Homo sapiens: one gene and its partners. The protein of the gene in region 4 purifies or fractionates together with the protein of the main gene of each other region. This does not show direct contact. Each region holds a gene or a part of one and is shown on either strand. Other genes may lie near its edges.

Region 1 (4,436 bases), on a different chromosome or scaffold from region 4:
CCCATGTGGATACCTGGACTATCACTTTTAGGCCAGAGATGGAGGGGAATGGCTAACAATTAGGTATTATTTGGGCAACACATTAGACAGAGAATACAGGACACAAGAAAAGCTGTGCTGACTTTAGCCTCTTGGTGCCCTAGAATTTTTGTCTTACTGCAATTAGGCTGGGCACAGTGGCTCACACCTGTAATCCCAGCACTTTGAGAGACTGAGGCAGGAGGATCGCTTGAGCCCAGGAGTTGAGACCAGCCTGGGTAACATGGCAAGACCTCATCTCTACAAATAATAAAGAAATTTAGATGGACGTGGTGGTGCATGCCTATAGCACCAGCTAATCTGGAAGCTGAGGTGGGAGGATCACCTGGGAGGTCGAGGCTGCAATGAGCCGTGATCTCACCACTGCACTCCATCCTGGGCAACAGAGTGAGATCCTGTCTCGAAAAAAATTAAAAAATAAATAGAATAACAAAGCAGTCTAGTCCCATGGAGAGATAGGAAGGATCCTCAAATGTGGAAGACCCTAACCCAGACAGGACTGTGGCTGTCTAACAAACACCAGTCTCAAAAAAAGCAAGCTTAAGAATGAACTTATTATAGTATCAATGCGGTGATTACAAATTACTCAATATTTCCTAAAGACCATGAGAACTCCAGAACCCATTCTTACACAGGCCCTGTGGAAGAATCCAAGCAGGAATAATTGGATTATTTCCAGCCAGTGACTTTCAGGAGGACCACATATCTTCAATGTCTTCACATTGTATCTGAAAAATGTATCTGAAGCACTCAAACACCAAGTCTACTCAAATACGCTTCCCAAGCAGCTTTTCTGTACATCTCTGCTGCTTCCAGACGATCAGCTGCTGAGATTATGCCACGACCTACAATGATGATATCGGAACCTCGTTTGCCAATAACTTCTTGTGGGCTATTGTACTGTTGGCCAAGATTATCTCCTGCAAGAAACACAAAAATTGTTGTTTCACATAATACAAAAATCAGAAAACCTGTCACATGACTTCTCTGAAAAAGTATCTAACCAGCTTTAAATAAAAACATGCCCCTACTTTCGTTCCCCTTTTGTACAGCAACTGCGTAAAAACAGGAGCTGAAGAGACTCACTGGGTAGGCCAGAGACGTCAAATGGAGAAAGATGATCACCAACTCCTTTTCAATGGTAAAGTTTATTTTATTTATTTATTTATTTATTTATTTTTATTTATTTATTTTTTTGAGACGGAGTCTCGCTCTGTCACCCAGGCTGGAGTGCAGTGGTGCTATCTCGGCTCACTGCAAGCTCTGCCTCCCAGGTTCATGCCATTCTCCTGCCTCAGCCTCCCGAGTAGCTGGGACTACAGGCGCCTGCCACCACGCCTGGCTAATTTTTTGTATTTTTTAGTAGAGATGGAGTTTCACCGTGTTAGCCAGGATGGTCTCGATCTCCTGACCTCATGATCCGCCCGCCTCAGCCTCCCAAAGTGCTGGGATTACAGGCATGAGCTACTGCGCCCCGCCCTATTTATTTATTTATTTTTTTGAGACAGAGTCTTGCTCTGTCACCCAGGCTGGAGTGCAATGGCACAATCTCAGCTCGCTGCAACCCCCGCCTCCCGGATTCAAGCGATTCTCCTGCCTCAGCCTCCCGAGTAGCTGGGATTAAAAGCGTGCACCACCACGCCCGGCTAATTTTTGTATTTTGAGTAGAGACAGGGTTTCACCATGTCGGCCAAGCTGGTCTTGAACTCCTGACCTCAGGTGATCTGCCCACCTCGGCCTCACAAAGTGCTGGGATTACGAGCGTGAGCCCCCGCACCCAGCCTTATTTATTTTATCATTATTTTTTCATGTAATTTTTTTCCAGAAGCATAAATTCAAGTTGCCCTAAATATTCACCCCCTCAATGTCAAATTTTAGATCATCTGTAGCTTAACAATATATTAAAAAAAGAAGTAAAACTCATATGTTGCAAAGAAAGGTTCAATATCAAAAAAATACAATAAAGATTGGCCTCACAATTGAAGAAAATTTTAGCACACATCTTAGAATCACCACAAGGCACTGCTGAGCAAGTCTAACCTGACCACTACCATATACAAGAACCCCATCAAGTGGTCACACAGACTATCCATAAACCCGAATCCTTAAATTTTGCTTTTTTATTAAATTCCGCTGTTTCAGAAGCATTCTGTTAAATGGCTTATTATCTTCCAAATCCAAGATACTTTAAGTATTCTTAAAAGCCTAGACCCTAACTATAATATCTAGTCAAACAATTATTAGGGCTTACGAATAAGGGCTTATAAGTACAGAGTGTTTACTCTGTGCCAAGACATTGTGTTAAATATTCTACATGTTATCTCATTAAAGCATCTTGATTACCTTATGAGGTCAATACTGTTATCATCCCCATTTTACAGACAATTAGACTAAAAGAAGTAAACTGACTTGTCCAAAGATACATAGTTACCAAAGGGCTCATTCATTATTGTTCTAGACTAAGAAGGCTTTTCTTAAGCAAGTGTATAATAATATGCAAAGTTTTATTTTGCCTGCCATGGGTAAAGAAGCATTTTTGGAAGAGCCACGACCAGTGACCAGATTTACCTCCTGCTTCCAACTGAACTCCTGGAGTCAAGTGAAGAAATTCTGGTTTCATGCTTACTCGGGAGCCAGAAATAAAACCAACAACAAATTCAGAGTGCTCCTCAGCCATTCTAACCTAAATGGAATGTAATAGGACATATTATAAGAAAACAGTTAATCACACAGAATAAAAGTAAAAATATGCTCTATTTTTTCAAAACTTAAAAAAAAAAAAAAAAGACATGAGGTCTCCCTATGTTCCCTGGCTGGTCTTGAACCCCTGGGCTCAAGGGATCCTCCTACCTTGGCCTCCCAAAGTGCTGGGGTTACAGTTGTAAGTCACCATGCCTGGCTTATGCTCTATTATCTAGTTAGAAACTTTGCTGTATTATAGATGCCTTTTCTCATTCCATATATATAAAGTTACTATATCTGAAACAGGTCATCTTAGATAGAAACCATAATAAAACACATCTGCTTCATTAAGACTCTGAGATGACCCTTTCCCTTCCCTTCCCGCAATAAACCATACGTAAAGCAGAAATCCTATACTATATGCATCTAAAATCAAGATGCTGCATAATTTCTTATTTCTAATAATGCTTGGTGACCCACCTACTTCCAAAAAGGATTTGAGGCGAGTACTCTAGAACATATTATAATGGTATGAAACCACATTCAAGGCTTACTGACTATCTACAGACGGGGTACTCCATATCCAAAGGCAGCTGTCATGTAAAGAACAGCTACGCTTTCAAGAGCTAAAGAAATCTCACCTCTACCACTTTCCCTCTTCTGTAACATCAACTGGTCTCCCCAATTTCTATACTATTATCTCACATTCATAAAAGTCTCTTTAGAAGGTCTGCCTGGCTTTCTGATTCGGTAGGTACTTTCCCCGAGACGTGACTCCCATACTTCCCTTCTTATTTGATACTTCCCGGAGACCAGACTCAGTACCACCACTGCACTCCAGCCTCGGTACTTCGAGACCTGAGACACACATTGATACATTCATTCTTGCCACCAAGTACTACTGCCAACAAACAAGTCATGTCTTGTCCTTGAGCCAGACCCAGACTCCCAGAATGCCAAATATTAAAACTGACTCATGGCCCCTGTGATTTTGAGACTTGGGAAATCAGACAGTTATAGTCAATTCAGGGATAGGGTTAAAACCTGACTGTAGGGCCATATGAGTTAAGTCTCCAAATAGTCTGAAATAATATGAAAAAATGGAAATCCTTTACTTCTAGAATCTTCACATGGGGATTGTCTTGGGGATTTCATTTTTAAAAAAATCATGGGGATTTTCTTGGGGCTTTTTATTTTTAATTTTTTTTGACAGGCTCTTACTCTTGCCCAGGCTGAGGTAAAGTGGCATGATCATGGCTCCCTGCAGCCTTGAACTTCAAGCTCAAGCGATCCTCCCACCTCAGCCTCCCAAGCAGCTGGGACTATAGGCACGTACCACCATGCCTGGTTATTTTCTTTTTCATTTTTTTGTAGAGACGAGATCTCACTATGACGTCCAACTCCTGGCCTCAAGCAATCCTCCCGCCTTGGCCTCCCAAAGTGCTAGGATTACAGGTGTGAGCAACTGCGCCCAGCCCCCTATGGCAATTTTTTTAAAGTAATATTATATTCTAAAATATCTGACAAGAATAAGAGAAAGCCACTGCATGTGGGCTGCTGTCATGGGAATGTGCATCTCTGTAGGACTTGGGAGATTCTGAGAAACTGCATGTCTGGGAAGCTCTTCTCATCTTCTCTCAATTCATGGTAAGATGAAAAAGACATTATCTTAAAGTCCTGGTAGATTTAGTAAGTGTTTGTTTGACTAACTATCT
Region 2 (4,436 bases), on a different chromosome or scaffold from region 4:
TATCAGCCAGTTCAGTTGTGCCTTAGTTTATGCCAAAAATGTCTGACTGAAAATTTACATGTATGCCAGGAAAAAAGCCTAAAATACATTTGAACACTATTTAAAACAATTCTATGAGAATTCCTCTTTTAAGAAGCCTGTATCTCCTGATCTTCACCTCTTTAATTTTTTAAATAAAAGTATCTGGCCAGGCACGGTGGCTCACGCCTGTAATCCCAGCACTCTGGGAGGCCAAGGTGGGTGGATCACCTGAGGTCAAAAGTTCGAGACCAGCCTGGCCAACATGGTGAAACCCCATCTCTACTAAAAGTACAAAAATTAGCCAGGTGTGGTGGCATGCATCTGTAATCCCAGCTACTTGGGAGGCTGAGGCAGAAGAATTGCTTGAGCCCAGGGAGGCAGAGGTTGCAATGAGCCGAGATCACGCCCCTGCACTCCAGCCTGGGCAACAGAGCAACACTGTCTCAAAAAAAAAAAAAAAAAAAATCTATTAAATTCTTAAAGTATGCTGTTTCCAGATTATAATAATTTCCAATTACATTGTGTACTTAAAGCTAGCCTGAGATTTATTTCTAAAATAGCAAAATGAAACAAATCTCACATTACTAAGCTTATCATAATCAGTTAATATATCAGATGATGAGATTTCCTATTAGAATTTAGGGCTTTTATGGAGTGACCACAGAACTGTCATCAAAGTTTCAATTATGATGGAAGCAAAACTTCCTAAAGCTTCAAATCACAAAACTCAGCCAGTATAAGGAGGAAAAGAGTACCTTCAGGTTCCAAAGCCAATGCCTCAAATGTTCAAATGACTGGGTATTACCACTGCTCTTTTTTTAATTTTCTGCCCACTAATGTAAAGAATTTGTCATAAATTGTGCCCTTCTGACAAATGATTGTAAAATATGGAACTATTTCACTACTAAGTCTTGTTTTAGAGGGTAGCCAATCCCCCCACCATACCTCCACCAGGAGCTCTTTAAGGAAACTGCTAATTAACGTTGCTATCTTGTCTCCATCTATGAGATGAAAGTGGCCATCTGCATCATGGTAGTAATAAACAATTCTGTCTGCATCTCCATCAAAAGAACAGCATCTTTCATTGGACTTAATTTCCATTCCTAGCACACAGGATAATTTAACATGCATTTCAGTCTAAGAATTTATTATAAAGAGTTTTAGAATTTTCTCTTAAAATTATCCACCTAAAAATCAATGTCTTAATCTTAAATAGTGTATAATCTTTAAATAGTACATAGTTTATTAGTGGTTTTTACAGGTCAAATTCTTTCACTGCAAAGTGAAAAAAGGAGCATTCAAAATCTATGCTGATATTTGCTATAATACTACCATAAAATTCCACTTTATAAGCAGGTTGGTTTGGCTAGACAGGTGTCCCATAAAGGTTTTTTGAAAGCTACATGTATTTCTGAATGTAATTTACCTAGGACCGTGATCTCCTTTACATAGAAAAAATAATCAGCACTAGATGATGTATGTGCTTTAATTCTAACAGAAATGATTTTTATTTGTTCATACCACCAATAAAAAGAAACACTGATAATTAAGAGCAAAGAATTATAACTTTGAGAGATAACTGGCCTGTGAAATTTACATAAAGTTGCTGAAATCTCAGCAATTGTCACATCAAATTTATTAGAAAATTTGGCTATTCCTTAGCCATGACAGCAGCAGAGTGACAAATTCAACATGAGACAACTAAGAAGTAAAAGGCTTTTGTCAGGAATGGGATCATAAGATTGATGAAAGGACATGATGCAAGCTTCAGGAAAGCAAGGACTATGGTTTTGTTCATACTGTAGTCCCAAAGCCTAGAGCATAGAGAGTAAGAGCTCAGTATTTAAGAAATGGATAAATAAGTGGCAGAACTGAACTGTCAAGTAAATGTCAAAACAAGCAATTCAATGAAAAGGAGCTCAAATTGGTTGACTACACTGACATTTTAAATGCTTACTAAGTAAAGCATAATAACATGAATGAATGAGGCAACTGGATGAAGTCTGTAGAGTTCCAGAATGCATGTCCTATTTTAGGGGAGCAGCATCTATCTGACTGTAGTGGACTAATGCCATGTGTGAACATTTTCTGATTTTGGTAAAGAGATGCTAGAGATTCCAATATATAAGAGAAGTCACGGAATTTTTAAACAGTGGCACACAGACAAACACACAAATGCAGCCAGCCAAACAAAACATATCTGCAAGTCAGGTTTGGCCTAAGCAAATAATTTAGGGTCTATAATGCAGATAAATCCAGAACACCTCTTACTACAACTAAAATCTGAAGAAAAGTCTTCCTCCTATTCTGCACTGAGTGGAAAACACTGATTGCTAACAACTGTATAAGCAGAGTTACATTTGCTTTCCATAGTGTATTTAATTCAGATAAGGTATCTAATAATACTTACTATGCTCCCCTGTAGATCTGTGATTCTCAAAAAGGGATCCCCAGACAAGCACTGGGAACAAAGCCTGCAAACTTGATAGAAATGCAAATTTCTATCATATGCAAATCCTATGCCAGACCTCCAGAAACTCAGAAGTGGAGCCCAGGAATCTGTGTGCTAACAAGCCCTCAAAGTGATTCTGACACATGCCAGTTTGAGAACCACTGCTCTAGAATGCCATTTCCTGACTTTGCTTTCCCCACCTGATTTCCTGTAGACTATGAGGAATGGTGTGATTTACAGGCAGAGAGAGCAGACCATGTTTCAATGGCTCTGAGAGTGGGAAGACTTCTCAATGTCTAAATGTGGCAGAGCCAGGAATAGCTGCAAGATTCTTAACTCACTTTACCACCTTAGTTTATAAGTGAGATTGGCTTCAAAGAGCATTAAAAACAAATTTTTGCAGTGCTAGTACGACATACCCTGTGGAGGTTTCTGATGACTTTTCACAAAGTCAGCTCCACATAAATGATTGAGTTTGCCCTTGGACCCATCATTAAACAGCTGAACTGACAGGCCCTGTGAGAAGTAGTGTTCCATTTCCCTTAGCTTCAGGGCCCCTATGCCATTTGCACAGTCAACCTTAAGTGATCTGTATTCATCTCCACTGCAAGAAGCCTACAAAGGAAAAAGACACATGGAAGAAAAATTTCAAGTTATAAAAATAAATGTGAAATATAAAGCATATATACATATGTGCATATGTAAATATTTAGTTAACTCATTTTAATTTTTAAATTTTATCAATTATAATTGTGTTCATTTTTCAATTTTTAAAATTATAAAACACTAAAGTAAAATTTAAAAACACCTGGAACAACAGAATAGTTTTGCTGATTGAACAACTTATAGCATAGAGCTTTATTAGAATTTAGTCTCAATTAACAGGGTCTCTTAAAAGTAATATTACAAGGGAGCCATTCAAATGCAAGAATAAGCACACAGACAAATGGGCAGTAATGACATGTCATTCTTTTTATAGTATGTGACATCATCATCAGGCAGATTTGTTTTTTTTCTAATTGTCTCCTCTCCCAGCTATCCTCACCCCAAATTATAAGTTCTATGAGAGCAAGGGCTTTTAGTTAATTGTGCCTGGTAAGGACATATACTCAATATTTGTTGATCAAACGAATTATACTTCTCAAATCTCTCTACATTTAACAAGCCAATATACCTAGAAGAAAATCTCAATAGTACATGCCTCAGGTATTAAGCCAACAGCACCTACATTAACTAAGATCAAATTCATCTGAATGAATACTTATGATACCATCGTCAAGACCCCCACCATGTTTGCTTCCCCAAAGTATCTCAGAATGTACTACATAATTTGCCAAGTAAACGCCAATGTAAGTTAGCAGGATACATAGACCAGAACCTTGTGTAGCCCTAGAGAAAAACAAAAAAGGAGATATGCAGCATCTTTGGAAAAGGAAAGAGGAGGCATGACAAACAAGATAATTTGTTCAGTAGACCATGTTACTTTATTCATTTGTTTAACTTTAACCATGTTCAATAAACTTTTCACCTGTTTGGTGAGTTCCACAAAAGCCTTAGAGAGTTTCTGGTAGTAACCTTCTATAGTTGCCTTTCCATATCGGCCACCCGTGTTTCGACAATACACCATGTAGTGCAGCTGGGGTGTTGTTAACAAGCCATAATCTGTCATAGAAATACAAAAAGCAATTCACCGCATTTCTTAACAAAGAGAAAAAAGTTTAAATGCATTCATGTGTAGGAATTTCAGGGTGACAAATCCTTTTGTGTCATCTCAGACATCTTAGAAAACATAAAAATGATCTTAAAAAGAAATATAAATGACTATAAGAAGCCAAAAAACCAATCATTACATATAAACAGGTAACAATGTAAATATAAAGCAATACAGACAAGTAATAATTGAGTTCTGTTTCCAGTAACATTGCAAACTACATAATTCAGATGAATCATCCTCCTGGAAACA
Region 3 (4,436 bases), on a different chromosome or scaffold from region 4:
AAAATACAAAATTAGCTGGGTGTGGTGGCGCATGCCTGTAATCCCAGCTATTCGGGAAGGCTGAGGCAGGAGAATCGCTTGAACCTGGGAGGCGGAGGTTGCAGTGAGCTGAGATTACGCCATTGCACTCCAGCCTGGGCAACAAGAGCAAAGCTCCGTCTCAAAAAAAGAAAAAAAAAAACCCCAGAAATATTAATTGGTATAATACCTAAGGAAAAGACTTTGAAAATACTGACAAAAATTGCAAATGTCAGCCTGGGCAACATAGCAAGACCTAGTCTCTACTAAAAATTTAAAAAATTAGCCTATAATCCCAGCTATTCAGGAGGCTGAGGCAGGAGAACAGCTTGAGCCCAGGAGTTTGAGCCACTGCACTGCAGCCTGGGTGACAGAGCAAGAGCCTGTGTTTTTTTTTTTTTTTTTTGAGACAGAGTCTCACTCTGTTGCCCAGGATGAAGTGCAGTGGCACGATCTCGGCTCACTGCAACCTTTGCCCCCCAGGTTCAAGTGATTCCTCTGCCTCAGCCTCCCGAGTAGCTGGGACTACAGGCATGCACCACCATGCCCGGGCAATTTTTGTATTTTTAGTAGAGACAGGGTTTCACCATATTGGCCAGGCTGGTCTCAAACTCCCGACCTCAGGTGATCCACCCGCCTCAGCCTCCCAAAGTGCTGGAATTACAAGCATGAGCCGCTGTGCCCGGCCACCAATTAATATTTCCATCAGCAAGAATGAGAGTGTTTCCCTACAATCTCATCACAGAATTAATAGTCAAACTTTTAGAATTTGCCAATCTGATAGGGCTGACCTCATGATCTGCCCGCCTCGGCCTCCCAAAGTGCTGGGATTACAGGCATGAGCCACTGTGTCCAACCTACAAGATCACGTCTTAAAAAAAATTTTAAAAAAAGGCCAGGCGTGGTGGCTCGTGCCTGTAATCCTAGCACTTTGCGAGGCCAAGCGAGCGGATTGCCTGAGCTCAGAAGTTCAAGAGCAGTCTGGGTAATACGGTGAAACCCTGTCTCTACTAAATACAAAAAATTAGCTGGGCATGCAAGGCAGGCACCTGTAATCCCAGCTACTCGGGATGCAGAGACAGAAGAATTGCTTGAACCTGGCAGGCAGAGGTGGCAGTGAGCCCCCACTGTACTCCAGCCTGGGCAACAGAGAATCCATCTCAAAGAAAAAAAAAAAGAAAGAAAGAAAAAATCGCAAATGCATATACCTTTGACCTAGCAAATCCATTTTTGGGGAATTTATCCTACAGACACTTGCATACATGTAAAAAGAGCTAAGTTCATGGTTATTTCATGAAGCATTATTTATAATAGCAAAAGAATGGGACCACCCAAACATCTATGATTGCTTTAAAAATCATGGTATATCAGCCAGATGCGGTGGCTCAAGCCTGTAATCCCAGCACTTTGGGAGGCTGAGGTGGGCGGATCACCTGAGGTCAGGAGTTCGAGACCAGCCTGACCAAGATGGAGAAACCCCATCTCTACTAAAAAAACACAAAATTAGCCAGGCGTGGTGGCACATGCCTATAATCCCAGCTACTTGGAAGGCTGAAGCAGGAGAATCGCTTGAACCCCGGAGGTGGAGGTTGCGGTGAGCCGAGATCACATCATTGCACTCCAGCCTGGGCAACGAGTGAAACTTCATCTCAAAAAAAAAAAAAAAAAAAAATCGTGGTAGATCGACACAATGCAGTATCACATAATTATAAAACACAAGGAAGGGCCAGGCACAGTGGCTCACGCCTGTAATCCCAGCACTTTGGGAGGCCGAGGCGGGCAGATCATCAGGTCAGGAGTTCAAGACCAACCTGGCCAACATGGTGAAACCCCGTCTCCACTAAAAATACAAAAATTAGCTGGGCATGATGGCGGACACCTGTAATCCCAGCTATTCAGGAAGCCGAGGCAGGAGAATCGCTTGAACCCGGGAGGCGGAGGTTGGAGTGAGCCAAGATTGCACCACTGCACTCCAGCCTGGGTGACAGAGAAAGACTCTGCCTCAAAAAAAAAAAAAAAAAAAGACATGGATGAAACTGCATGTATTGATATGGAAAGTTTGCCAAGGGATACTGTTGAGTGAAAAAGTAAGTATACTGTATATATCACGCCACGTTTTGGTTGAGAGAGAGAATATGAGAATCTACACTTATATTTGCTTTGCATAAAGTCTTTGGAAGAATATTAAAAATCCATGAACAGTGGCTACTTATGGGATAGGATGGTGTTATGAGCTGAATTGTGTGTGGCCCGCTGACCTCAAACTCATATATTCAAGTCCTAACCAGTACCTCAGAATGTGACCTTATTTTGAAATAGGGTTGCTACAGCTGTAGTTAAGATGAGGTCACTAGGGTGGGCCCTAATCCTTGTACTTTATTATACTTTCTGAGTTTTGAACCCAGATTCACTTTTCAAAAAGTTAAAAAATTTACCTCATGCAGGATCTGGATTTTATTTAAAAAAATAAAATAAAATTGGCCGGGCGTGGTGGCTCACACCTGTAATCCCAGCACTTTGGGAGGCCAAGCGGGGTGGATCACGAGGTCAGGACATCGAGACCATCCTGGCTAACACGGTGAAACCCTATCTCTACTAAAAATACAAAAAAAAAATTAGCTGGGCATGGTGGCGGGCGCCTGTAGTCCCAGCTACTTGGGAGGCTGAGGCACAAGAATGGCGTGAACCTGGGAGGCGGAGCTTGCAGTAAGCCGAGATCACACCACTGCACTCCGGCCTGCGTGGCAGAGTGAGACTGTCTCAAAAAAAAATAAAAATAAATAAATAAATAATAAAATTAGGCCAAGTGCAGTGACTCATGCCTGTAATCCCAGCACTGTGGGAGGCTGAGGCAGGCAGATCGCTTGAGCTCAGGAGGTCAAGACCAGCCTGGGCAATATGACAAAGCCCCGCCTCTACTAAAAATATAAAAAATTAGCCAGGTGTGGTGGTGGATGCCTGTAGTCTCAGCTACCTGGGAGGCTGAGGTGGGAGGATCTCTTGAGCCTGGGTGGCAGAGGTTGCAGTGAGCCAAGATCACGCCACTCCACTCTAGCCTGCACGACAGAGTGAGACCCTGTCTCAAATAAAATTTTAAAAATCTAATATAAAAAATAAAAAATTTAGGCCGGGCACAGTGGCTCACACCTGTAATCCCAGCACTTTGGGAGGCTGAGGTGGGTGGATCACGAGGACAGGAGATCAAGACCATCCTGGCTAACACGGCGAAACCCTATCTCTACTAAAAATACAAAAAAAAAAAAACTAGCGCGTGGTGGCAAGCGCCTGTAGTCCCAGCTACTCGGGAGGCTGAGGCAGGAGAATGGTTATGAACCCAGGAGGCAGAGCTTGCAGTGAGCCAAGATTGTGCCACTGCACTCCAGCCTGGGCGACAGAGCGAGACTCCGTCTCAAAATAAATAAATAAATAAATAAATAAATAAATAAATAAATAAATAATTTGCCAAAATATTATCAAATGAACAGTAGCAGTACAATCCAATAGAGAGACTCTTAATTTTAAGAAGTCAAAGGATAAAATGTGGAAAATCGACATATCCCTTCAGTAACAAAATCTAATTCACTGGCTTGTAAACAGCTGAAGTTTACACGAAATGACAGCTCTTTGTACAATGCAGCTATGAGTGCAAAGCAGCGGCCCACATGGAACTCTTTTCTAGCTTGTAGTTACTAGTGACTCACCATTGGTATCTGCTTTGACTTTCTCTTCCTTGATCTGCAAATTGGTCATCTGAATAGAAATAAAAGAAAACAGAGTTAAGCAAAGGACCCAATAAAAGGAAGGTCCCTAAGAAAAGAAAAACTTTCTAGTAAAAGTCTAGTGTGAAACTTTCAGCACCAGTATTCAGGGAGTCGGTTTGTTCCCTCAAAGTAGAGTTGCTGAAAGTCTGTGTGAAACCATCATTTCAAATATCTTCAACAGCCTTAAAACAAGGGGAGGGGTGGACTAAATATAATGGTTGGGGGGAAAGTTTCAGAAAACCTCAACCTCTGCTCATCTCCCAACTCAAGTTCTTTCTATTTATTTATTTTCTGAGACAAGGTCTCACTCTGTCACCTAGGCTGGAGTACAGCAGCACGATCATGGCTCACTGCGGCCTCAACCTCCTGGGTTCTAGCGATCCTCCCACCTCAGCCTCCCTAGTAGCTGGGAACACAGGTGTGGACCACCATGCCTACTTGAACTCAAACTCGAACTCCTGGGCTCAAGCAATCCTCCCACCTTGGCCTCCCAAAGCACTGGGATTACAGGTGTGAGTCACTGCACCCAGCCTTCTGTCACTTTCATTGGTTATCTCTACACTAGAGAGCAGAACCACATGATAACCTAAGACCATGAATCATTTATTAAGTGAAGGTACACAAGTCTACATGGTGAAAAAAAAGGTCTTCTCCAAC
Region 4 (5,336 bases):
GATGCCTGCATTCTGCATTCCACCTGATGACCTGTGTGGTCCTTCCGTGTAGTTTTGCAGGCGATGCTGACAAGCTTCTGCACATCCGGATAGAAGATTCCCCGGAAGCCCAGATTCTTCCCTTCTTACGCCACATGTGTCACTTCATTGGTAAGGAGCGTTCCTTGGCCGGGTAGCAACTGGCCTGTGTCTGGGAAGCAGAGGGGCAGTGGAGCCTCCTTCACAGGCTTATTCTGGACCGTGATTTCCCCATGCTCTAGAGAGAAAGGGCCCAGCTCGGCATATGCTCCATCTGGGTGGGACAAGCTCCAGGACACGTCCAACTTCTGGGGAGCCCTCAGTGAAACGAGCAACCGTGGTGTTTACCTCGGGGGCAGTGGGGCCCAAGGCTCTGGCCCTGGCTAGATGGCTGTGCCCTTCTGGGCTTGTTGTAAAATGAGAGTGATGGCTACCCACAAGTGCACATGCTCATGGAGGCTCTGGGCTGAGCTCTGGGGACCAGTAGTAAATCTATCTCTCTCCATCCCCGCCTTCATCCTTGGTCTGTGGGATGTCGGTGGAATGGAAGGAAGACTACAAAGCTCTTTCAGTTCTGACTTCCAAGATTTTCTTTGTTTTTGTTTGTTGGTTGGTTGGTGGAGTTGGGGTCTTGCTATGTTGCCTAGGCAGGTCTTGAACTCCTGGCCTCAAGCGATCTTCCTACCTCAGCCTCTCAAGGTGCTGGGATTATAGGCATGAGCCACCACACCCAAGTGATGCCCACCAGTTACTTAACTCATCAAGAGTGGATTTTTTACTCATTCCTGGGGCTCCAGATTGCCAGAGGAGAGTAAGATCTGTAGAGAGAGCAGGGCTGAGTCAGGTCAGAGTCCCCACCCCATGCCTGCCTGTCTGGCACCAACAGCTCCTGGCCTGAGCCACTGTACCAGGGGCTGGAGCATGGCATTTTGGCCCAACCATCCCTTATTTTAAATTTTATTTTTCGAGACGGGGTCTGGCTTGTTCACCCAGGCTGGAGTGTAGTGGCACAATCTTGGCTCACTGCAATCTCTACTTCCTGGGCTCAAGCAATCCTCCTACCTCAGCCTCCCAAGTAGCTGGGACTACAGGCATGCACCACCACGTCCAACTAATTTTTGCATTTTTAGTAAAGATGGGGTTTTGCCATGTTGCCCAAACTGGTCTTGAACTCCTGAGCTCAAGCAATCCACCCACCTCAGCCTCCCAAAGTACTGGGATTACAGGCGTGAGCCACCACACCCAGCCCCAACCATCCTTTATTTGCCCAGTAGATGTCAAATGTTGCTCAACCAGGGCCTGAGGCTGAGACTTCCCATGTGTCCCACCTCGAGATGGCAGAGCCTTGTGGCCCAAGGAGGGACCCCATCTAGCCTGCCTCCCTGGGTAGCACTGAGCCAGTCAATAAATTAAACTGCATGCTCAGTTCCTTTATTCAGATGGTGAGGAAGGTGGCCATCGTCATCTCTGCGTCCTTCTTCAGCCCTGGCAGTCTGTGATTTTGCACTTGGTAGGCTTATCTTCAGTTCCTGAGGGTTGCCAGACCAGCCTCGGGTGCCAGCTTAGATTTCCTCTCCCTGGGCAGGACTCACAGCTTCAGGGGTGCTGTGATTAGAGCTGATATTTCTGTGCCAGGCACTGGGCTCAGCACAGAACAAAACCAAACTGTATGAAGTAGGTAGTATACTGTGATCCCGTTTTCCAGATGAGGACACCGTGGCCTCAAGTAACTTACCCTCCAGCCCGGGCAACATTGTGAGACCCCATCTGTACAAAAAAGTTAGCTGGATATGGTGGCACATGCCTGTGGTCCCAGCTACTCAGAAGGCTAAGGCGGAGGGTTACTTGAGCCCAGGAGTTCAAGGTTGCAGTGAGCTGTGATTACACCACTGCGTTCCAGCCTGGGCAACAGAGCAAGACCCAGTCTCTAAAATAAAATAAATAAAAATAGGCTGGGCACAGTGGTTCTTACCTGTCATTCCAGTACTTTGAGAAGCCAAGGTGGGCAGATCACCCGAGGTCAGGAGTTCAAGACCAGCCTGAACAACATAGTGAGACTGCATGTCTATATTGAAAAAAAAAAAAAAAAAAAAAAAATCAGGCGCAGTGGCTCATGCCTATAATCCCAGCACTTTGGGAGGCCAAGGCAGGCAGATCACCTGAGGTCTGGAGTTGGAGACCAGCCTGGCCAACATGGTGAAACCCCATCTCTATTAAAAATACAAAAAATTAGCTGGGCGTGGTGGCAGGTGCTTGTAATCCCAGGTACTCGGGAGGTTAAGCCAGGAGAATCACTTGAACCCAGGAGGCAGAGGTTGCAGTGAACTGAGATTGTGCCACTGCACTCCAGCCTGGGCAACAAGAGTGAAACTCTGTCTCAACAAAGAAAGAAGGAAAGGAGAGAGAGGAGTAGAGAGGAGAAGAAAGGGGAAAGAAGAGAGGAGATGGGGGAAGGAAAGGAAAGGAAGTAACTTGCCCAAGCCCCACGGCCAGTGAGTGGCAGTCAGGATTGGCACTCAGGCTACACTGGCTCTGTCAGCTCCTGACTGTTTTTGGGATGACGATGGTCCTGTCCGCCCCATACTGGGAGGCCAGTTGGTAGCAGAGCTTCCTGGGCTAGAAACCTGGAGTTCAGGAGAAGGTCTTTGCCTGGTGATGCTGGTTGCCCAGGCATGATTCTCTGGAACTTCCAGCCAGGTCTGAGGGATGCCCACTTGCTAGACAATGAAATGGGCTCCCAGAGAAATCATGGGACTTGCCGAGGTCACGTGGGCTGGTTTTGAACTCATGCTTGGACCACGGGCCCATGGAGGCCAGTGTCTGACAGCAACCCAGGCCCACAGGGAGGAGGGCCAGGCATGACCCAACCCCCCACTTCTTTTTGCAGAAATTCACCATCACCTTGGCTCTGTCATTCTGATCTTTTCCACCCAAGGTATCAGCCGCAGTTGTGCCGCCATCATAGCCTACCTCATGCATAGTAACGAGCAGACCTTGCAGGTATGCGTTCCCCGGGCCAGGCTCGCACCACGGCCACCCCCTGGGAGGTGAGGTCAGAGCGCAACCTGGGAGGAGTGGGGCCCCAGCACTGCTTTGGGAGGAAGAATCCCAGATAACTCCAAGTCTAGGGTGCTCCCCAGTCCGCGTCACCCAAGGGCAAGGCCCCAGTGTTGCATGCTTGAGGCCTGAGGCTGGATATGCAGGGCTGGCCCAGGGACTCAGGCCAGGTCAGGCTGTCCTGCAGCCCCCACTGCTGTCAGGCCGTCCACCTGTGTTTGTTTGGTGTTGCCCAAGGGAGAACTGCTTGGAGTCCCAGAGCTGCAGCACAGGCGCCCACCCACTCCCGTCTATCTCCCTGTACCTTGGGCGCAGGGTCCAGAGAAGAGAGGGAAGCAGGGACCCATCGCAGCAAACCCAGGCGGAACTCGGAGCTCCTAACTCACAGCACCTTTCTCGAGGGCCTGCCCTGCCTGTCACAGCCTGTTCGTGATCCCCAGAGGGCTTGATAGGACCTACAAAGCCCCAACATTTGCCCAGGGATGTTTTTGGGGGAAGGAGAGGGACAAAGAATAAAACTCGTTGGCCAGTGGCTTCGGTTGTTGCCCCCATGTGCACTTTGGGGGTGAAGTTGTAGGCTAGAAAGTCCTTTTTTTTTTTTTTTTTTTTTTTTTGAGATGGAGTCTTGTTCTGTTGCCCAGGCTGGAGTGCAGTGGTGCAATCTCCACCTCCTGGGTTCAAGCGATTCTTGAACCTCCACTGCACCCTCTGCCTCCTGGGTTCAAGCGATTCTCCTGTCTCTGCCTCCCGCGTAGCTGGGATTACAGGTCCGTGTCACCATGCCCGGCTAATTTTTGTATTTTTAGTAGAGACAGGGTTTCACCATCTTGGCCAGGCGATGTGTGGGGTGGTGGTGGGGGATGGGTGGTTTACGATTCTTCCTCCAGGGCCTGTTCTGACCCAGCGAGGACATAGTAAGCCTTTTGACTGCACAGCTCTGCCCCTCACACCACTTTAAAAAAAATTGTGGTTAAAATATACATAACAGGCCGGGCGCGGTGGCTCACGCCTGTAATCCCAGCATTGTGGGAGGCCGAGGCGGGCAGATCACCTGAGGTCAGGAGTTCAAGACCAGCCTGGCCAACATAGTGAAACCCCCTCTACTAAAAATACAAAAATTAGCTGGGCGTGGTGGTGCGTGCCTGTAATCCCAGCTACTCTGGAGGCTGAGGCAGGAGAATCGCTAGAAGCTGGGAGGCAGAGGCAGCAGTGAGCTGAGATTGCACCATTGTACTCCAGCCTGGGTGACAAGAGCGAAACTCTGTCTCAAAAAAAAATATACACACACACACACACACACACACACACACACACACACACATACACACACACACACACACAACAAAAAAATTACCATCTTAACTATTTTAAAATGTATAGCTTAGGAGCATTAAGTACATTCACATTATTGTACAACTAATCTCCCAAACTTTTCCATCTTGCAAACCTGAAACAGCAACTCTTTACTTTCCCCTCTTCATCGCCCCGTGGGAACCACCATTCTACTTTTTGTCTCTGTGAATTTGACTACTCTAGGTACCTTATATAAGTTCCTTCCTTTTAAGGCTGAATAATATTCCATTATATGTGTGGAATTCACCAATAAACCCATCTAGGCTGGGTGCTTTCTGTTTTGGAAGGTTACTAATTATTGATTCAATTTATTATTGTTATTTTATTTATTTATTTTTTTTTGAGACGGAGTCTCGCTCTGTCACCCAGGCTGGAGTACAGTAGCACAATCTCGACTCACTGCAAGCTCTGCCTCCCGGGCTCATGCCATTCTTCTGCCTCAGCCTCCCGAGTAACTGGGACTACAGGCATCTGCCACCACTCAATTTCTTTAATATATGTAGGCCTATTCAGATTGTCTGTTTCTTCTTGTGTGAGTTTTGGCAGTCTGTGTCTTTCAAGGAATTGATCAATCACATTTGTGGATATGAATATTCTTCTATTATCCTTTTAATGTCTGTGGGATCTGTAGCAATGTCTTCTCTTTCACTTCTGTATTAGTAATTTGTGTCTTCTGTTTAAGTTAGCCTGGCTAGCGGTGTATCGATTTTATTGATCTTTTCAAAGAACCGGCTTTTGGTTTTTTTGATTTTCTCTATTGATTTCCTGTTTTCAATTTCATTCTTTGCATGGCGTATCTAGTTTTCCTAGCACCATTTGTTGAAATGACTGTCCTTTTCCCCCATCGAATGGTCTTGGCATACTATCAAAAATTCCTTGACAGGCCCGGTGCAGTGGCTCACACCTGT

What was found. Proteins that work in one complex are often made in the same cells at the same time.
Region 1: the proteins of STYXL1 (region 4) and UMPS purify together in Homo sapiens (affinity purification with mass spectrometry, with the first as the bait; one large-scale study listed by BioGRID). This does not show direct contact.
Region 2: the proteins of STYXL1 (region 4) and PGM3 purify together in Homo sapiens (affinity purification with mass spectrometry, with the first as the bait; one large-scale study listed by BioGRID). This does not show direct contact.
Region 3: the proteins of STYXL1 (region 4) and DDX19A purify together in Homo sapiens (affinity purification with mass spectrometry, with the first as the bait; one large-scale study listed by BioGRID). This does not show direct contact.

What each region holds. Positions count from the first base shown.
Region 1 is NC_000003.12:124,740,438-124,744,873, reverse strand, and holds part of UMPS (uridine 5'-monophosphate synthase), read right to left. Parts: intron 2,723-4,436; coding exon 2,608-2,722; intron 960-2,607; coding exon 790-959; 3' UTR 1-789. UniProt on the Homo sapiens protein: Bifunctional enzyme catalyzing the last two steps of de novo pyrimidine biosynthesis, orotate phosphoribosyltransferase (OPRT), which converts orotate to orotidine-5'-monophosphate (OMP), and orotidine-5'-monophosphate decarboxylase (ODC), the terminal enzymatic reaction that decarboxylates OMP to uridine monophosphate (UMP).
Region 2 is NC_000006.12:83,178,844-83,183,279, forward strand, and holds part of PGM3 (phosphoacetylglucosamine mutase), read right to left. Parts: intron 4,136-4,436; coding exon 4,002-4,135; intron 3,089-4,001; coding exon 2,893-3,088; intron 1,125-2,892; coding exon 967-1,124; intron 1-966. UniProt on the Homo sapiens protein: Catalyzes the conversion of GlcNAc-6-P into GlcNAc-1-P during the synthesis of uridine diphosphate/UDP-GlcNAc, a sugar nucleotide critical to multiple glycosylation pathways including protein N- and O-glycosylation.
Region 3 is NC_000016.10:70,349,889-70,354,324, reverse strand, and holds part of DDX19A (ATP-dependent RNA helicase DDX19A), read right to left. Parts: intron 3,769-4,436; coding exon 3,720-3,768; intron 1-3,719. UniProt on the Homo sapiens protein: ATP-dependent RNA helicase involved in mRNA export from the nucleus.
Region 4 is NC_000007.14:75,998,572-76,003,907, reverse strand, and holds part of STYXL1 (serine/threonine/tyrosine-interacting-like protein 1), read left to right. Parts: intron 1-52; coding exon 53-150; intron 151-2,905; coding exon 2,906-3,018; intron 3,019-5,336.